Linked DNA regions of Homo sapiens: region 2 is linked to region 1. Evidence: fine-mapped expression QTL. Tissue or cell type: whole blood. Region 1 holds a variant in brackets; the other region holds the start of a gene. All regions are shown on one strand. Distances are from middle to middle.

What was found. PIP is the estimated chance that this variant, and not a neighbour inherited with it, causes the effect.
Region 2: it holds the start of PPFIA1, and the variant in region 1 is fine-mapped to the expression of PPFIA1 in whole blood (TOPMed, PIP above 0.99).

Annotation. Positions count from the first base shown.
Region 1 is chr11:70,210,497-70,221,067 of GRCh38, reverse strand. LOC124902705 (a long non-coding RNA gene) reads left to right here and starts at 8,596. Exons shown (of 3, transcript XR_007062761.1): 1 at 8,596-8,779. RefSeq lists enhancers at 599-1,299, 5,842-6,649, 6,650-7,459, 7,460-8,269. The variant C/T (reference allele first, on the strand shown) is at 5,915.
Region 2 is chr11:70,265,104-70,275,674 of GRCh38, reverse strand. PPFIA1 (PPFI scaffold protein A1) reads right to left here and starts at 4,985. Exons shown (of 28, transcript NM_003626.5): 1 at 4,761-4,985; 2 at 3,239-3,502. The coding sequence starts at 3,502. RefSeq lists silencers at 4,381-4,810, 4,851-5,400.

The sequences.
Region 1 (10,571 bases):
GAATTCCCTTAGCATTTGCTTTCTGAGACAGATTTTATTTATCCTTTGCTTATGATACTTAGTTGGGTGGGATATGAAATTCTTGGAATTCTTGAAATGATTGGAATTTCTTTTCTTTGGATGCTGAAAACAGCCCCTGATCTCTTCTGGTGTGTAAAGTTTCTGCTGAGAGGTCCATTTCTAGCCTGATGGGGTTCCCTTTGTAAGTGACCTGACACTTCTCTCTAGCTGCCTTTGATATTTTTTTTCTTTCACGTTGACCTTGGTGAATCTGTTGTCTTGTATAATACTTTTTTTTTTTTTGAGAGTCTTGTTTTGTCACCCAGGCTGGAGTGCAGTGTCTCAATTTTGGCTCACTGCAACCTCTGCCTCCTGGGTTCAAGTGATTCTCTTGCCTCAGCCTCCCAGGTTGAATTACAGGCATCTGCCACCATGCCTGGCTAATTTTTGTGTTTTTAGTAGAGACAGGGTTTCACCACGTTGGCCAGGCTGGTCTGGAACTCCTGACCTCAAGTGATCTGCCCACCTCGGCCTCCCAAAGTGCTGGGATTACAGGTGTGAGCCACTGTGCCTGGCCCGTATAATGCTTTTTTTTTTTTTTTTAAAGTATTAGCTCATGTGACTTGGAGGCCAGAAGCAGGGCGGGTTGCTTCAGCAGCTCAGTGGTATTGTCCCTGGCTCTGTGTCTGTTACAAAATGTCATCGTGTTACAAAATCATCCTGTTACAAAATCACATCATGATGGTGTGATCACACCTGTAACAAGAGAGGCTGAACACATCTTTACTGGTGTACTTACTCTGTAGTTTACAAACAAGTCACAGAATCCTCACAACATCCCTTCTAGGTAGCTACTGTAATCATCCATTTTGTGGATGGGTTTACTTGTCTAAGTTTACACAGATGCTAAGTGTCAGGCCTCTAAGCCCTAGCTAAGCCATCATATCCCCTGTGACCTGCATGTACACATCCAGATGGCCGGTTCCTGCCTTAACTGATGACATTCTCCCACAAAAGAAGTGAAAATGGCCTGTTCCTGCCTTAACTGATGACATTGTCTTGTGAAATTCCTTCTCCTGGCTCAAAATCTCCCCTACTGAGCACCTTGTGACCCCTACTCTGCCTGCCAGAGAACAACCCCCCTTGGACTGTAATTTTCCTTTATCTACCCAAATCCTATAAAACGGCCCCACCCTTATCTCCCTTCACTGACTCTCTTTTCGGACTCAGCCTACCTGCACCCTGGTGAAATAAACAGCTTTATTGTTCACACAAAGCCTGTTTGGTGGTCTCTTCACACGGACGTGAGTGAAATTTGGTGCCGTGACTCGGATCGGGGGACCTCCCTTGGGAGATCAATCCCCTGTCCTCCTGCTCTTTGCTCTGTGAGAAAGATCCACCTATGACCTCAGGTCCTCAGACCAACCAGCCCAAGAAACATCTCACCAATTTCAAATCCGGTAAGCAGCCTCTTTTTACTCTCTTCTCCAACCTCCCTCACTATCCCTCAACCTGTTTCTCCTTTCAATCTTGGCGCCACACTTCAATCTCTCCCTTCTTTTAATTTCAATTCCTTTCATTTTCTGGTAGAGACAAAGGAGACACGTTTTATCCGTGGACCCAAAACTCCAGCACTGGTCACGGACTAGGAAGGCAGCCTTCCCTTGGTGTTTAATCATTGCAAGGACACCTCTCTGATTATTCACCCATGTTTCAGAGGTGTCAGACCACGCAAGGACGCCTGCCTTGGTCCTTCACCCATAGCGGCAAGTCCCGCTTTTCTGGGGGAGGGGCAAGTACCCCAACCCCTTCTCTCTGTGTCTCTACCCCTTCTCCACCTTTCTGGAGGGCAAGAAATCCCCAACCCCTTCTTCTTCACTCTTAGCAGCAAGTCCCACTTTTCTAGGGGAGGGGCAAGTACCCCAACCCCTTCTCTTCATGTCTCTACCCCTTCTCCACCTTTCTGTAAGGCAAGAAACCCCCAGCCCCTTCTCCTTCACCCTTAGCAGCAAGTCCCATTTTTCTGGGGGAGGGGCATGTACCCCAACCTTGTATCTCTGCGCCCCGATCCCTTATTTCCACGCTCCGACCTCTTATATCTCTGTGCCCCAATCCCTTATTTCTGTGCCCCAACCTCTTATATCTCTGCACCCTGCTCCCTTATTTCCGTGCCCCAACCTCGTATCTCTGTGCCCCGACCCCTTTCCTGCTTTTCTGGAAGGTAAGAACCCCCGAACCGCTTCCCTCCATGTCTCTACTCTCCCTTTTCTTTAAACTTGCCTCCTTCACTATAGGCAACCTTCCACCCTCCATTCCTCCTTCTTCTCCCTTAGCCTGTGTTCTTAAGAACATAAAACCTCTTCAACTCTTGCCTGACCTAAAACCTAAATGCCTTACTTTCTTCTACAATGCCGCTTGACCCCAATACAAACTTGACAATGGCTCTAAATGGTCAGAAAACGGCACTTTCGATTTCTCCATCCTACAAGACCTAAATAATTTTTGTCGAAAAATAGGCAAATGGTCTGAGGTGCCTGACGTCCAGGCATTCTTTTACACATCTGTCCCTCCCTAGTCTCTCTGCCCAGTGCAACTAGTCCCAAATCTTCCTTCTTTCCCTCCTGCCTGTCTCCTCAGTCCCAACCCCAAGTGTCGCTGAGTTTTTCTAATCTTCCTTTTCTACAGACCCATCTGACCTCTCCCCTCCTCACTAGGCCGAGCTAGGTCCCAATTCTTCCTCAGCCTCTGCTCCTCCACCGTATAATCCTTTTATCACCTCCCCTCCTCACACCCAGTCCGGCTTACAGTTTCATTCCATGACTAGCCCTCCCCCACCTGCCTAGCTATTTCCTCTTAAAAAGGTGGCTGAAGCCAAACGCATAGTCAAGGTTAATACTCATTTTTCTTTATCAGACCTCTCCCAAATCAGTGAGCGTTTAGGCTCTTTCATCAAATATGAAAAACCCAGCCCAGTTCATGGCTCGTTTGGCGGCAACCCTGAGACGCTTTACAGCCCTAGACCCTAAAAAGTCAAAAAGCCGTCTTATTCTCAATATACATTTTATTACCCAGTCTGCTCCCGACATTAAATAAAACTCCAAAAGTTAAATTCTGGCCCTCAAACCCCACAGCAGGACTTAATTAACTTCACCTTCAAGGTGTACAATAATAGAGTGGAGGCAGCCAAGTAGCAACATATTTCTGAGTTGCAACTCTTTGCCTCCACTGTGAGACAAACCCCAGCCACATCTCCAGCACACAAGAACTCCAAACGCCTGAACCGCAGCTGCCAGGGGTTCCTCCAGAACCTCCTCCCCCAGGAGCTTGCTACAAGTGCCCACAGCCCAGGATTCCTCCTGAGCCATGTCCCATCTGTACAGGACCCCACTGAAAATTGGACTGTTCAACTCACCTGGCAGCCACTTCCAGAGCCCCTGGAACTCTGGCCCAAGGCCGTCTGACTCCTTCCCAGATCTTCTTGGCTTAGCAGCTGAAGACTGGCACTGCCGATCGCCTTGGAAGCCTACAGGACCATCACAGACACTCTAAGTAACTCTCACAGTGGAAAGTAAGTCCATCCCCTTCTTAGTCAATACGGAGGCTACCCACTCCACATTACCTTCTTTTCAAGGGCCTGTTTCCCTTGCCTCCATAACTGTTGTAAATATTGACAGCCAGGTTCTAAACCTCTTAAAACTCCCCAACTCTGGTGCCAACTTAGACAATACTCTTTTAAGCACTCCTTTTTAGTTATCCCCACCTGCCCAGTTCCCTTATTAGGCGGAGACACTTTAACTAAATTATCTGCTTCCCTGACTATTCCTAGGCTACATCCACACCTCATTGCCACCTTTTCCCCCAGTTCAAAGCCTCCTTCACATCCTCCCCTTGTATCTCCCCACCGTAACCCACAAGTATAAGACACCTCTACTCCCTCCTTGGCGACCGATCATGCACCCCTTACCATCCCATTAAAACCTAATCACTCTTACCCCGCTCAATGCCAATATCCTATCCCACAGCACGCTTTGAAAGGATTAAAGCCTATTATCACTTGCCTGTTAGAGCATGGCCTTTTAAAGCCTATAAACTCTTCTTACCATTCCCCCATTTTACCTGTCCTAAAACCAGACAAGCCTTACAGGTTAGTTCAGAATCTGCGCCTTATCAACCAAATTGTTTTGCCTATCCACCCCGTGGTGCCAAACCCATATACTCTCCTATCCTCAATACCTCCCTCTACAACCCATTATTCTGTTCTGGATCTCAAACATGCTTTCTTTACTATTCCTTTGCACCCTTCATCCCAGCCTCCCTTTGCTTTCACTTAGACTGACCCTGACACCCATTAGGCTCAGCAAATTACCTGGGCTGTACTGCTGCAAGGCTTCACAGACAGCCCCCATTACTTCAGTCAAGCCCAAATTTCTTCCTCATCTGTTATCTGTCTTGGCGTAATTCTTATAAAAACACACGCGCTCTCCCTGCCGATCGTGTCTGACTGATCTCTCAAACCCCAACACCTTCTACAACCTAGGCATGGTTAGATACTTTCAACTTTAGATACCTGGTTTTGCCATCCTAACAAAATCATTATATAAACTCACAAAAAGAAACCTAGCTGACCCCACAGATCCTAAATCCTTTCCCCACTCCTTTTTCTGTTCCTTGAAGACAGCTTTAGAGACTGCCCCCACCTGAGCTCTCCCTGACTCATCCCAACCCTTTGCATTACACACAGCCAAAGTGCAGGGCTGTGCAGTTGGAATTCTTACACAAGGACCAGGATCGCGTCCTGTAGCCTTTTTGCCCAAACAACTTGACCTTACTGTTTTAGGCTGGCCATCATGTCTCTGTGCAGTGGCTACTGACCCTAATACTTTCAGAGGCCCTTAAAATCACAAACTATGCTCAACTCACTCTCTACAGCTCTCATAATTTCCAAAATCTATTTTCTTCCTCACACCTGATGCATATACTTTCTGCTCCCCGGCTCCTTCATCTCTCTGATCCAGCTGATGTTCACCTCATTTCCCCACATTTCCTTCTTCCCTGTTTCTCACCCTGATCACACTTAGTTTATTGATGGCAGTTCCACCAGGCCTACTCGCCACACACCAGCAAAGACAGGCTATGCTATAGTACAAGCCACTAGCCTGCCTTTTAGAACCTCTCATTTCCTTTCCATCGTAGAAATCTATCCTCAAGGAAATAACTTCTCAGCGTTCCATCTGCTAGTCTACTACTCCTCAAGGATTATTCAGGCCCCCTCCCTTCCCTACACATCAAGCTCAAGGATTTGCCCCCACCCAGGACTGACAAATTAGCTTTACTCAACATGCCCCGAGTCAAGAAACTAAAATACCTCTTAGTCTAAGTAGACACTTTCACTGAATAAGTAAAGGCCTTTCCTACAAGGTCTGAGAAAGCCACTGCGGTCATTTCTTCCCTTCTGTCAGACATAATTCCTCAGTTTGGACTTCCCACCTCTATACAGTCCGATAGCAGACCCACCTTTATTAGCCAAATCAGCCAAGCATTTTTTCAGGCTCTTAGTATTCAGTGAAACCTTTATATCCCTTACAGTCCTCAGTCTTCAGAAAAAGTAGAACAGACTAATAGTCTTAAAAACACACCTCACCAAGCTCAGCCACCAACTTAAAAAGGACTGGACAATACTTTTACCACTTTCCCTTCTCAGAAGTCAGACCTGTCCTCAGAATACTACAAGGTGCAGCCCATTTGAGCTCCTGTAGAGACACTCCTTTTTATTAGGCCCCAGTCTTATTCCAGACACCAGACCAACTTAGACCGTGCCCCCAAAAAACTTGTCATCCCTACTATCTTCTGTCTAGTCATACTCCTATTCACCGTTCTCAACTACTCATACATGCCCTGCTCTTGTTTACACTGC[C/T]GGTTTACACTGTTTCTCCAAGCCATCACAGCTGATATCTCCTGGTGCTATCCCCAAACTGCCACTCTTAACTCTTGAAGTAAATAAAGAATCTTTGCTGACCGGACTATGCTGAATCTCCTTAGGCACTCTCTAATCAGATGTCCTAGGTCCTCCCAATTCTTAGACCTTTTATACCCGTTTTTCTCCTTCTCTTATTCCATTTAGTTTTTCAATTCATACAAAACCATATCCAGGCCGTCACCAATAATTCTACACGACAAATGTTTCTTCTAACAACCCCACAATATCACCCCTTACCACAAAATCTTCCTTCAGCTTAATTTCTCCCATTCTAGGTTCCCACGCTGCCCCTAATCCCACTTGAAGCAGCCCTAAGAAACATCACCCATTATCTCTCCATGCCATCCCCAAAAAATTTTCACCATCCCAACACTTTACCACTCTTTCGTTTTATTTTTCTTATTAATATAAGAAGACAGAGGCCGGGCACGGTGGCTCACGCCTGTAATCCCAGCACTCTGGGAGGCCGAGGCGGGCGGATCACGAGGTCCGGAGATCGAGACCATCCTGGCTAACACGGTGAAACCCCGTTTCTACTGAAAATACAAAAAATTAGCTGGGCGCCGTGGCGGGCGCCTATAGTCCCAGCTACTTGGGAGGCTGAGGCAGGAGAATGGCGTGAACCCGGGAGGCGGAGCTTGCAGTGAGCCAAGATAGCGCCACTGCACTCCAGCCTGGGCGAAAGAGCGAGACTCCGTCTCAAAAAAAAAAAAAAAAAAAAGACAGGAATGTCAGGCCTCTAAGCCCCAGCTAAGCCATCATATCCCCTGTGACCTGCACGTACACATCCAGATGGCCGGTTCCTGCCTTAACTGATGACATTCCACCACAAAAGAAGTGAAAATGGCCTGTTCCTGCCTTAACTGATGACATTGTCTTGTGAAATTCCTTCTCCTGGCTCATCCTGGCTCAAAAGCTCCCCCACTGAGTACCTTGTGACCCCCACTCCTGCCCGCCAGAGAACAACCCCCCTTTGACTGTAATTTTCCTTTACCTACCCAAATCTTATAAAAAGGCCCCACTCCTATCTCCCTTCGCTGACTCTCTTTTCGGACTCAGCTCGCCTGCACCCAGGTGAAATAAACAGCTTTATTGCTCACACAAAGCCTGTTTAGTGGTCTCTTTACATGGACGCAAGTGAAACTAAGTAGAAGAGCTGAGACTCAAAACCAGGTGGCGGCTTGAGGCCAGCCTCCTGGCCACGCAATGCCTCTTAGTAGTAGAGTTCAGTCTATTAGATCTACCTTATTAAATCTGGTATTTCTTGCCGCCACAGGGTTTGTTTTATTATTTATTTATTTATTTACCATAACAACACTTTTATTTATTTATTTATTTATTTATTTATTTATTTTTGAGACAGAGTCTTGCTGTGTCACCCAGGCTGGGGTGCAGTGGCACAATCTTGGCTCACTGCAACCTCCGCCTCCCAGGTTCAAGTGATTCTCCTTCCTCAGCCTCCTGAGTAGCTGGGATTACAGGTGTCCACCAGTATGCCCAGCTAGTTTTTGTATTTTTAGTAGAGACAGGGTTTCACCATGTTGGCTGGGCTAGTCTCGAACTCCTGACCTCAAGTGGTTGGCCTGCCTCGGCCTCCCAAAGTGTTGAGATTACAGGTGTGAGCCACTGTGCCTGGCCTTTTTTTTTTTTGAGACCGAGTCTCGTTCTATTGCCCTGGCTGGAGTGCAGTGGTATAATCTTGCCTCACTGCAACCTCTGCCTCCCAAGTTCAAGTGATTCTCCTGCCTCAGCCTCCCAAGTAGCTGGGATTACAGGTACCCGCCACCACACTTGGCTCATTTTTTGTATTTTTAGTAGAGATAGGGTTTCACCATGTTGGTCAGGCTGGTCTTGAATTCCTGACCTCAGGTGAAATGCCGACCTTGGCATCTCAAAGTACTGGGATTACAGGTGTAAGCCACTGTGCCTGGCCCCATACCTACACTTTAATTTTAAGGCTGCTTGTTTTAAAACAGGCAGTTCCTTAAGAATAGTAACAATGATGACATTTAGTGACGTTTATCCTGGGCTGTCACCCCCAGACCTCGCCACACCACATCTCATTGAACCTTACAACATTGCTGGGAGAGGGAGCATTGGTGAGGGAGAAGAGCTGGCCACTCCCGGTCTGAGCTGGTAGCCCTTTGCTAAGAATCTACCGAGTAAATGAATGAATGGTGAATGAACCAGAATGAAACATACAGCTCAGAGTGCCAGGAGCCCAGAGGTGTATGTGTACGTGGGCGTCAACCCTTCCTGGCGAGTAGGACCCCTGGGATGGCCTGCAGTGACTCAGGTGGTGGGGACTCCTCCCTGGGGTTCCTGGCTGGAGCTCACTGGGCCTGGTCAGAGTGAAGGGCACCGGGGCGGGGGTATGTGGACCAGGGGCGGGGAGCAGAGGCTCAGGGAACAGGGGCATATGATGCATGGGTGGCAGACCAAGGGGCATACCTGGCTCCCCTGAGAAGATGCCCTCTTGCCCTGCCCGTGCCTACTGCGGGGCAGGTGCTTTCACAGTCCGACTGACTGGGCTGGGAAGCCCAACCAAAAGTGAAAGCTGAAGGGGAATCCAGGAATCTGAAACCCTGGGGCGGAGGCATCTTTTGCTTTCCTGCTTGCAAGGAACTCAGGCCCCTGAGAGACGCTAGTGGGCCTTTGATCGCTGCTGTTTACTCATTCACTCAGCAAACACAAAATAAGCCTTCACTCAGAAGCCGCTGGAAAGTGCTGGAAGCAGCCCTCAGGGAGTCGCGCTAGAGGAAGCAGGACCCGGGCAGGAGTGGGGGCTGCAGGGATCCCACTGTGAGTGGGTGCATGGGCAAGCCTGCATCAGAAGGATGTCTTCTGAGCTGGGGGGCTTGGGGTGGATAGTGAGGAAGGCTGCAGGGAGAGGAAACAGCAGGGGCAAGGGCTGCGGGGGAGGGTGGGAGGGGGTGAGGTGACAGTCTTGCTGTGGAGGGAACATGGCACTGGGCTGGGCTCTGCACAGTTGTGTACCCCGTCCCATGCATGATGATGCATGGATTAAGATTTCATCCTGGGCAGGCGCGGTGGCTCACTCCTGTAATCCCAGCACTTTGGGAGGCCGAGGTGGGTGGATCATGAGGTCAGGAGATCGAGACCATCCTGGCTAACATGGTGAAAACCCGTCTCTACTAAAAATACAAAAAATTAGCCGGGTGTGGTGGCGGATGCCTGTAGTCCCAGCTACTCGGGAGGCTGAGGCAGGAGAATGCTGTGAACCCGGGAGGCGGAGCTTGTAGTGAGCTGAGATCACGCCACTGCACTCCAGCCTGGGCGACTGAGCGAGACTCCACCTCAAAAAAAAAAAAGATTTCATCCTGAGGGACATGGGGACATTGTAGCTGGGGTTCTCCAGCCAGAAACTGATTTGGAAGTAGTAAAACATTGCCCAGACTCCCATGATGACCAGGTTTTCATTTCAATAATGAAACATCAATAGGCACAAATATATAGCCAGATGTGGAATAGAAGCCCATGTGTCTAGCCCTTGGAAACTATAAATCGCCAATAAAATTGCAAATTGGGGAGAGAGAAGCCTACAAAACTCGTAGAATTCAGATTAATAACATATTTAACGTCAGGTATGATTACTATTTTTTCCTTTCTTTTCTTTCCTCTGTTTTTTGAGACAGGGTCTTGCTCTGCTGCCCAGGCTGGAGTGCAGTGGCGCAACGATGGCTCACTATAGCCCTGAACTCCTGGGCTCTAGTGATCCTCCTGCCTCCCAAGTAGCTGGAACTACAGGAATATACCACTGTGGCCAGCTAATTTATTTTATTTTTTTTAAATTTTATTTTGAGAAAGAGTTTTGTTCTGTTGCCCAGGCTGGAGTGCAGTGGCGTGTTCTCAGCTCACTGCAACCTCCCCATCCCAGGTTCAAGCAATTCTTCTGCCCCAACCTCCTGATTAGCTGGGTCTACAGGCATGTACCAACACACCTAGCTAATTTTGTATTTTTAGTAGAGATGGGATTTCACCATGTTGGCCAGGCTGTTCTTGAACTAGTGACCTCATGTGATCTGCACGCCTTGGCCTCCCAAAATGCTCAGATTACAGGCATGAGCCACCACACCGGCCTAATTTATTTATTATTATTATTATATTTTAGAGATGGAGTCTTGCTTTGCAGCCCAGGCTTTTGAACTCTTGGCTTCAAGAGATCTCCCACCTCAGCCTCCCAAAGTGCTGAGATTACAGGCGTGAACGACTGTGCCGGGCTCAGCATTTTTAATTCATTCCAAACAGAAGTGCATTCTGTTTAATCATTAAACAGTATGTATGATGCTGTTTTGCTGAAACAAAATTGTAGCTTCATGTCTACAGACTGTCATCAAGGAGGCGTGGGAGTTTGGAAGGCCTTGTACTTGCCATGTGCCTGGGGGTGACTCAAATGGTCCACGATATTCTTTTTCTATTTGAGCCACACCTCAAAAACTTAAATCATATGTCATTTGGCTTTCCATGAGGACCCCATTCATGCATTGAATTGGCCTCTGTTCCTTGGTGACCATTACTGGGGTTGGCATCCATGATTCTTGCCACGGGGTCTCAACTTAGTAAATGATTCAAG
Region 2 (10,571 bases), 55 kb before region 1:
TGGGGAAAGAATAGTCTTTTAAGAAATTATGCAAGGTCAACTAGATATCCATTTAAAAAAAGAAAGAGAGACTCTTGGCCCCATCGCATACCATAAACAAAGTCAATTTCAGATGGAAGATTAAAAAATAGTTTTTAGAAGACAATGTAGAATATCTCATGAACTTGACCAAGCAAATTTCTTAAACAGGACACAAAGAGCATTAAACATTACTGAAAAGATGGATCAACTGGGCTACATTAAAAATTTTACACTTCTATGTATCAAAAGATACAACTGAGAGAGTGAAAAGGCAAACACAAGAGTCTAAAAACAATCTGTCATGCACATATGTACTCAGAATATAGAGAAAACTCCTTCAAATCAGTAAAAAACAAAACAGACAACCCAATCAACAGATGGGCAAAAGATAACCGTTTCACAAAAGACATCCAGGTGGCCAGTGAACACAGGTAGAGATGCTTTACCTCTGCATGTTCCTGGCCATCAGGGAGCAGCAAATTCAGACCATACTGAGCCACCTACCAGCTAACAGCCACCAGAACAGCTAAAATGTAAAGACCCAACAATACCAAGTGCTGAAGAGCATAGGAGCAACTGACTTCTCATACATTGCTGGGGTAGTACAAACTGTCACAACCACCACTTTTGGCACTCTCTACTGAGGCTGAACAAATGCACACACCATCATTTGCATTCCACTTCTTTGTAGAAATCCAACAGAAGTGTACACATATCCTCCGGCCTGGGCAACATGGTAAAACCCCACCTCTACAAAAAATACAAAAATTAGCGGAGGGTGGTGATGCGTGCCTGTATTCCCAGCTACTTGGGAGGCTGAGGCAGGAGAATCGCTTCAACCTGGGAGGTGGAGGCTACAGTGAGCCGAGATCATGCCACTGCACTCCAGCCTGGGCAACAGAGTGAGACCCTATCTCAAAAAAAAAAAAGTTTATAGACATCTGCACCAAAAAACAAACAATATTAGGGGAGCACGTGTAAAAACTGGAAACAACCCCAAATGTCTGTGAGCAGTAGAAAGAATAAGTTCTGTCTGTTCGTGCACGGGATGACCAGAGAGCAGGTGAGAATGAGCAAGCTGCATCTCACAAACATGATGCTGACGACAGAATGAAGAAGCAAAACATACAGATTATTTTACTTCACTTAAACAAAGTCAAGAACAGGCAAAAGTAATCAATGGTGAAAGGTCAAGACCTTGGTTAGCTCTGGGGGACAACTACTGGGAATAGTTAGGAGGGGACTTCTAGGAAGCCTGATAATGTTCCATTTCTTGATCTGGGTGGTGGTATGCAAGTGTGTTAACTTTGTGAAAAGTCCACTGAGATGTATACTTACGATTTGTGAATTTTTCTGCTGTATGCTATAGTTATGTATATTTTTAAGTACACTCTAACTTGCCTCCACAATGTGCCAGGAGCACAAATGCACTTCCTGGACTCATTATCTGGTCACACTACCAGCCACCAAAGATGAACCAGATGCCAGGAAAGGGAAGGGTCCAAAACAAGTTTACTTAATAGTTTCCATTTTTGAAAGGCTGGAATCAGGTGCTCAGGTGGTAACGTGAACCGTTGGCATCATCATGTTATCCACTGAACTAGGCATTCCCAGGCTGCTACACTGAGCAGTGCCAGAAACAAATCACTGAGCAACCATGTCACCAGTGTGTGTGACAACCTCCACAGCCTGCGACTAACTGTACAAAACTCCTGTCACTTCCCTGACATGTCTTGTGTGCCCATTCTTTCCAAAACCTACCTTATTAAGTATATTAGTATTTGATATACACTTCAATACGTGTACCTTAAATTACAAATACAATAAAATCCTGGTAAAACATAAATTGGCTACTTCTTTTAAAATTGTAGTAATAAAATTCAACATAAATAAACTTGGTAATTTATAAGATTGAAATAAGAAAAATCTTAATGATTCTTTAATCCAACAAAAAAGGAACATAGAGCGCTAACGTCAAATTATTGTTGCTAAAAAGGAAACCCACGTTTGGCTTATCAATCTTTCAGGAGAACTGACTACAGCCAAGAAACACATTAAGGCTAGTACTTATTCATTTACTAATTTATCACTGCAGACCCATCATGCGAGTATAAATGTGTGCTTATGCGGGTCTACCTGAATGCACCCCAAAGGCACTTATGATGAGTAACGTGGCGCCTAGACAGCTCTGAAACACATAAATAACCCACTTCTCTCCCACTATGCCCCGTGCCACTCACCTTACACTCTTCTAGTTTTTACTTTCTCCCTTTACCTACCATTAAGTAAATCCTCATTCAACTCCATGAGCAAAGTCTTTCAAACACTGGTCCAAATGTAACATACTCAGAGAAACAATTTCAGTTGTTCTAAGCTTTAAAAATCTTTTTTTTTTTTGAGACAGGCTGGAGAGCAGTGGTGCAATCTTGGCTCACTGCAACCTCCACCTCCCGGGTTCAAGTGATTCTCATGCCTCAGCCTCTGAGTAGCTGGGACTACAGATGCGCGCTACCACGCTCTGCTAATTTTTGTATTTTTGGTAGAGACAGGGTTTTGCCATGTTGGCCAGGCTGGTCTCAAACTCCTGACCTCAGGTGATCCGCCTGCCTCAGCCTCCCAGAGTGCTGGGATTACAGGCATGAGCCACCACACCCGGCCTAAGCTTTAAAATTCTCATCTGCCAAGGAAAAAGTTCCTAAGGAATCAATCTCGAGTCTTCTATCCCCTAAAACAAATGTGACTTACAAAACCTAGATGTTCTGATAAAGGTGGGCTATCAAAATAATTTTTTTTTTCCGTGAAATCAATCCTATTTGTCTATTAAATTACATTAGGAAATTAGAAATACATGAGATAATCCATGGGAAGTACAAGTTTAGCCAGAAAAGGCTTAAGACAACAGAATGGAGGCACCAAATAGATTGGTTGCTTCAGAGCCCTTTTTCAAAAACTCTGGAGAACTTCCTGAACCTAGGCAGTTCCCAAAGATAGGAATGAAAATAATGAGGTATTTTCACATGACTTTAGAGTACAACGATTTGTTCTCCCTAAGAAGTTTAATCCCTAGGAACTTTGTATTTGACTTACAAACACCAGAAACTATCATTTCACAAATCGTTACGGAAAATACTCATCTGAAACATTAACAAAAGATGACACTAATAAAAAAACATTTAGTGGAGAAAAATCTATAGTTTCAGGTTAAAAGCACTCATACCTGTGGAAGTGCCGTGTTGAGCTGTCTCTGCAAGGAATCTCTTTCATGACCAACCTCGTGTAACTTCCCCTGGGTTAAGGCCAGCGTTTCTTGAGTCTCTCTCAGTGTATCAAGAAGGCGGTCCCTTTCTTCTAGCATGGAGACCATCAACTGTTCAAAATGTGAATCTGCATCTGGCTGTGAAGGGGAGCCGGAACCATGGCCTCCACCTCCTCCAGGGGGGCCTTCTGCTTCGCTGATGGTCGGCATCACCTCGCACATCATCTTGAAATGAAAGACCCAGGCTACAGTAATTAAGCTCAGAATACAGGTTCCCACAAATATGCAACTTTACAGGTATCTGTAGCTAAAAAGATGGGCAGTCTCATTATGCTCAGATCTGTTATGCTTTGTGTGTAAATAAGCTGGGAAAACATACACAGGGCAAATATTAAGTGCAAAAATACACAACATGAAGACATTAACACAGACAAAAATCCAGGGAAGGGGTCAAGATCCCAAAGGACTACCCTCACAAAAAAGGGCAAGCCCTGGGGTAGTCTGTTTGCAAAGCTGTACTTGTTTTTGCTGAAAACAAGTGTGCTTCTGTTACCTATTTTTTTTACTTCCCAGTGGGGTGGGGAGGGTGGGGGGGTAGGGGGGGAGAAAGTCAAAACACATGTCACCCAATCATTTTTCAGGAAAAGCACAGAAGGAGCATACAACCAGCAAAACTGACAAGTACAAAATCCATCAGGCATCTTGCAGGAATGTGTGCAGTCAGCTCCCGGGAAGAACTGACGGCTCCCTGAATTCTTGGGCTGGATTTGGTGAGCACTAAAAGGAACCGGATTCGTTAAACGCTGGTAGAAGTGTTTTCCAATGGCTGCAACGGTTGGTCAACCTAACTTACGTAAGTTTACAACCGAAAAAAAAAATCCACAATGGAAATATAGCAGGTCGATACAGCCGGGGGCGGCTAGGAAAGAGGGAAAAGTGAAAGGTGAGATTACGAGAGTCTATTAAGTGTCTGGGATATAAAGACAGCGCCAGGGAAAGGGGAAGTCGCTTCTGAGCCTTTCGGGCAGTACTGGGGGCGCGGTGGACCCCTGAGAGGGGGATGCCCCAGACGGCGCACCTGATGGGGATGGTGACCTCCAGCCTGCTCGAGCCGCACTCCTCCCCTCCTGTATCAGGTGCGGCGGAAGCCCCGAACCCCGGGGGGTGAGGACCGTTGACAACGGAGCCCGCTCGGGCCAGGGCTTTCAGCGGCCACAGGTCCCCGCCCCTCGCCCCAGCGCCCGGGTCACGGGGCGCGGGGCTCGGGGAGGGGCAGCGCGCAGTCCCCGGAGCCGTCCCTTGGGGCGCGGGTGTCCCGCCGGAGCTCTCCCAGCGCGACCCGGCGCCGCGGCCTCGCCCCCACCCGTCCCGGAGCGCACCCTTCCCCGCGGAGACATCTAATCGGCTGCGTGGCCGCCGCGGAGACCGGGACGCGCCGGTGACGCCTGGGCCCCGAGCCTGCCTCAGTGTCCCGCTCCCTTACCTTGCTCGCCGGCGGGAGCGGGCGAGGAGGCTCCGCGGCGGCTCGCGGGCGGCTGCTCGCTCCGGGAGAGCTTGGGAGCCGACGAAAGCAGCCCGCGGCCGGCGTCCGCCTGCCCGCCCCACGCCGCGGCCCCGGGGCCCGCCGCCCCAGTCACTAAGGCCGGCCCGCGGCCGGACACTGGCGGAGCGGAGGAGGAGCGGGCCCGGCTGCGCGGCGCCGGCGTCTACGTGCCCGACGTCGAGCGCGTCGGCGCGAGCGTCAGCACCGCCCCGGGGGCGGGGCCCGAGGAGCACCTTGGCCCGAGTACGCAAGCGCTGTCTCCTCAGGAGGGGGCGGGAGGCGGCCCCGGGGCACTGATTGGCTGAGCGAGACGGGAGCCACGCCCCCCAGGCCCCGCCCGGGTCGCGGGGGAGGGGGCGGTCTCCGGGATGAGCCACAGGTGGGCGCTCAGGTGCTCGCCGGGTCAGCGTCTTCCTCCGGGCGTCCCCAGTTTCCCCCCACGGCTGCAGGGACGCCGGAGGCCTTTGCTGAGTGTCTACCGCGCCTCGAGTTCTGAGCTGGACGCGTCCGGCACGTCAGGTCCCTCCCGAGCTGGAGGCTCTGGATTCGCACCTTGCAGAAGAGCGAACCGAGGCTTCAGTCACCACCGAGGACCCAGACCCCGCCCGCCGCGGCGCCCCTACGGTCTCCCTGGGCCTGATCTGGGTTCAGAAGGACGGAGTTCCCGCCAGGACCCACTTACGGAGCGCTGCCTGCCGCACCTGGGGACGTCCCGGCGCAGCGTCCAGAGTGCAGGCTTTGCCGCTGTGGCTTTCACTCTGCAGCGTGGGCCCGGGCGACTCGGGAAACCCGCCTGGGCTTCAGCGCCTCCGATGTAGGATGGGAAAATGATGCAGACCTACCTGCGAGGCTGCTTTAAGACATGAATCAGATGTGAAGAGCGACTAGTTGAGAGCCTGACGGGCAGCACTGCGCGAGTCTTGGTCATTTCATCTTTTCCGCAAGTTTTTTTTTTTTTCCAGACGTTGTTTCACTCTTGTCACCCAGGCTGGAGTGCAATGGCGCCATCTCGGCTCACTGCAACCTCTGCCTCCCGGGTTCAAGTGATTCTCCTGCCTCAACCTCCCGTGTAGCTGGGATTACAGGCGCACGCCACCAAGTCCAGATAATTTTGTATTTTTAGTAGAGACGGGATTTCTACATGTTGGTCGAGCTGGTCTCGAACTCCTGACCTCAGGTGGTCTGCCCGCCTCAGCCTCCCAAAGTGTTGGGATTACAGGCGTGAGCCACTGCGCCCGGCCTCAGCAAGAATTTTTAAACATCTACTATGGGCCAAGTCTTGTGCTAGATGTTGCAGATACGGAGATGAATAGAGACACCTCTAATTAATTAAAGCGGATGCCCTCCCCACTCCTCCCAGGATTTGACTCGGAGCACAAACTCTTCACAAACCAAAATGTCAGGACACCATCGCCAGTGTCCACTGGCCACTGCTGTTGGTGTGAGGCAGCCAGGAGCCCCTCAGAACTAGTAAGTCTGAGAAGAGGCTGCACGGGGCCTAGGAGAGGGAGAAATGAGCCCGTCCAAGGTGAATTCCTTGATTCTCCATTGTGAGTGCACCAAGAACAAGCACTCCCTCCGACTGACTCTCGCCTACCAGGATCTGGAACACCTTCCATTAATTTATTCGTTCATTCAATAAATATTTATTGACTGACTACACATAGATATGAATATGTACTTTTTGCCCCTAGTTTCTTGCTATTTTAAAAGTGTAAAAATGGCCAGGTGAGGCCGGGTGCGGTGGCTCAAGCCTGTAATCCCAGCACTTTGGGAGACCCAGGTGGGCAGATCACTTGAGGTCAGGAGTTCAAAACCAGCCTGGCCAACATGGTGAAACCCTATCCCTACTAAAAATACAAAAATTAGCCGGGTGTGGTGGCGGGCATCTGTAATCCCAGCTACTCAGGAGGCTGAGGTGGAAGAATAGCTTGAACCTGGGAGGTGGAGGTTGCAATGAGGAGATCATGCCACTGCGCTCCAGGCTGGGAGACAAAGCGAGGCTCTGTCTCAGAAAAAAAAAAAAAAAAAAAACATTGGCCAGGTGCAGTGGCTCACGTCTGTAATCCCAGCACGCTGGGGGGCCAACGTGGGAGGATTGCTTGAGCCTGGGCAATATATCGAGACCCATGTCTATACAAAAAATTAAAAATTAGTCCAGCAAGGTGGGCCACACCTGTAGTCCCAGGTACTTGGGGGATTGAGGTGGGAGGATCGCTTGAGCCTGAGAGGTCGAGGCTGCAGTGAGCTGTGATTGTGCCACTGCATTCCAGCCTGGGTGCCAAAGCGAGACTCTGTCTCAAAAATAATAAAATTGTAAAGTTGATCGCTTAGATGAGGTGTTCTGCAAGTACCCTGTACCTCTCCACACCCCAGCAATTCTGCACAACTCCCAAGTTCCCCTGAACCACTGTCTGAAACCAGCAAATTTCCAGCTCTCCTTAGGGGTACCTGCTTAATGCAGCCAGCTTATGTTTGCACCATGCTCATAAAGTGTCTGTTTTCTAAGAAATCGGCTCAAGGCCGGGCGCAGTGGCTCACGCCTGTAATCCCAGCACTCTGGGAGGCCGAGGTAGGCGGATCACGAGTTCAGGAGATCGAGACCATCCTGGCTAACACAGTGAAACCCTGTCTCTACTAAAAATACAAAAAATTAGCCGGGCGTGGTGGCAGGCGCCTGTAGTCCCAGCTACTCGGGAGGCTGAGGCAGGAGAATGGCGTGAACCCGGGAGACGGAGCTTGCAGCGAGCCGAGATCGCGCCACTGCACTCCAGCCTGGGCAACAAAGCGAGACTCCATCTCAAAAAAAAAAAAAAAAAGAAAAATCGGCTCAAGATCAAAATTTAGTTCGGCAGGGTAGAATGTTCATTCATTTCATGAATATTTGTGCAGCATGTATGAGCCAAGCATGGCTTAGGTCTTGGGAACGCAGAGCTAAGACATCACTTCTAGTATGAGTTCACAGTCTGGAGAAAGAGAAGAAAAACAGACTATTGCAATGTCTGTCCCGTAAACAGTGTGTGACTTGGTGCTGTGGAATCACAGGGAAGGGAGGAACCCGCTCTCCAGCTGGCATCATGGGGGCTTCATAGAGGAGGCAATATCTGAGCTGGGTCTTGAATGATGTGGGATTTTTCCAGCGGAGAAGGGAGACACCCAGTTGGTATAGCTCCAGGAAAATGAGAATTCTGAATTTCATTTTATTTCTTTCTTTTCTTTCTTTTTCCTTCCTTCCTTGCTTCCTTCCTTCCTTCCTTCCTTCCTTCCTCCCTTCCTTCCTTCCTTCCTTCCTTCCTTCCTCTCTCTCTCTCCCTCCCTCCCCTCCCCTTACCCTTCCTTTGTTCTTTTTCTCTCTCTTTTTTTTTTTTTTTTTGAGACAGGGTCTCATGTAGTCACCTAGGCTGGGATATAGTGGTTCGAACACAGTTTACTGCAGCCTCTACCTCCCAGGCCCATCAGTCATCTCACCTCAGCTCCCCAACAAGTAGCTGGGACTACCAGCGCAGACCACCATGCCTGGCTAACTTTTTTGTATTTTTGGTAGAAAAGAGGTTTCACCATGTTGCCCAGGATGGTCTCAAACTCCTGAGCCCAAGCAATCCTCCCACCTCACCCTCCCAAAGTGCTGGAATTACAGGCATGAGCCACCACTCATGGCCCTCATTCATTTTAATTCATTTATTATTTCATTCCCCCAGATCGCAAAATCAGTAAGGGGGAAATCGTAAACAACCTAAATGGCCAAGAAAACAAGATTGGTTAAATTATTGCACTTCCAAATGACAGAAAACTTGGTGACATTCACAGTCATTTTTTTTGAGACTGAATCTTGCCCCGTCGCCCAGGCTGGAGTGCAGTGGGGTGATCTCGGCTCACTGCAGCCTCCGCCTCCTGGGGTTCCAGAGATTCTCCTGCCTCAGCTTCCTGGGTAGCTGGGATTACAGGCACACCTGGCTAATTTTTGTATTTTTAGTAGAGACTGGGTTTCACCATGTTGGACAGGCTGGTTTCGAACTCCTGACCTCAGGTGATCCATCCACCTCAGCCTCCCAAAGTGCTAGGATTACAGGTGTGAGCCACCGCACCTGGCCCACAGTCATATTTTAGATAACTACATATATCATGATTGTGGTGGTAGTTACATTACTATATACGTTTGTCAAATAACTGTACATTAATATGTAGAGTATGCCTTAATTTTTATACATAAACAAAAACTTTTTTAAAAAAGCAAATTCAAACAAGTATACAGAGTGTGAACCCCAATTTGAAAAAGAAAACAGTCTGTGTTTAGATTAAGAATGTATTATGTAAAATTTACCTTGTAGATGAATAACTCTAGAATGTTAAGGTGATACATTTTTAATAAAATGAGTTTTATATGACATGAACTATTCTTGAAATGAGAAATTAAATTTTAAGTTTCAAATTATGAAAGAAAAACATATGTCTACATAAGAAAATATTGTTACTGTAGTCAATTAGTTCTTTATCTTTCCCCACTTCCCGCATATATATATGTATATATTCTTGGAAGGAGATCCATCAGAATGTTCGCGGTGGTTATCTTTAAGTGGGATTGTGGTTGGAAGCTGCATTTCTTTCATTTTGCTAGTCTTTATTTTCTAGATACTTTATCATGAATGTGCGTCATTATTATAATCAATAGGAAAACCTCCAATAAATGTTCATTAAAATTCAATCTGGACAAGTGAGAACCATGGAGAACTGCTTTCAGGAAGCTAACATGACTTTCAGATGGATTTACTCATACCACCCAGCTAAACTACTTCCCAGAAGTATTTATCTGGAAAACATTTCTCAGAGCTTGGGTGACATGCTGTCACCCAAGGCTCTGTCAGGAAAACAGTGAAGATGGAAAATGTTTTCACTCCAGTTCTTCTGTAAAAGACTTGATAAAGAAATTATGATAGAAGGAGTGAGGAGGGAGCAGAGAATTTATCACTACTCCTGGGGTTTCATGTTTGCAAATGTGGCTGCGGTGGAGGTCAGCCAGCCTCTGCTCTCTAGAAGGTGCCTGGATGATGCAGTTAGTTGTCAACCATGAGCATCACTCAGGACACCTCTCCACTCCAGAGATGTAAGCGGCTTAAGAAGGAGGTTCCTGCGGGGATCGTTGTGGTCTGACCTCAATCATAGAGATCAGGATGTGCCCAAATCTACCCAGAACATGTAAAGCCACCTAATGAATGAGTGCTGTGACAACACAGTTCAGGGGGAGGTCTGAGCTGGAGGAGCCCTAGGGCAGTAGATGGTGGAGGATGTGGTCGTTCCTTTAAGAGAAGGGAGCTGAAACCCAGAGATGCAAAACAGATTTCCCTGTAGACACTCAGAGAGTTTGGGGCAGAGCTGGAGGTGGAGCCTTGAGTGAACCCAGGGCTCTCAATTCCCCGTCCTGTCCCCACGTCGTTGTGATCAAGGAGTGGCCTCTTTAAGGAACAACTGAAGAGAAAACATTTTACCAGTTGGTCTGCAGTGCAGCCGAAATAATTCAATTCCCAGGGCCAAGAGCTACCATTTTACTTATTCATCTCATTTCATTCTTTTTTTTTTCCGAGATGAAGTCTCACTCTGTCGCCCAGGATGGAATGCAGTGGCACGATCTCAGCTCACTGCAACCTCTGCCTCCCAGGTTCAAATGATTCTCCTGCCTCAGCCTCCTGAGTAGCTGGGATTACAGGCATGCGCCACCACGCCCAGCTAATTTTTGTATCTTTAGTAGAGACAAGG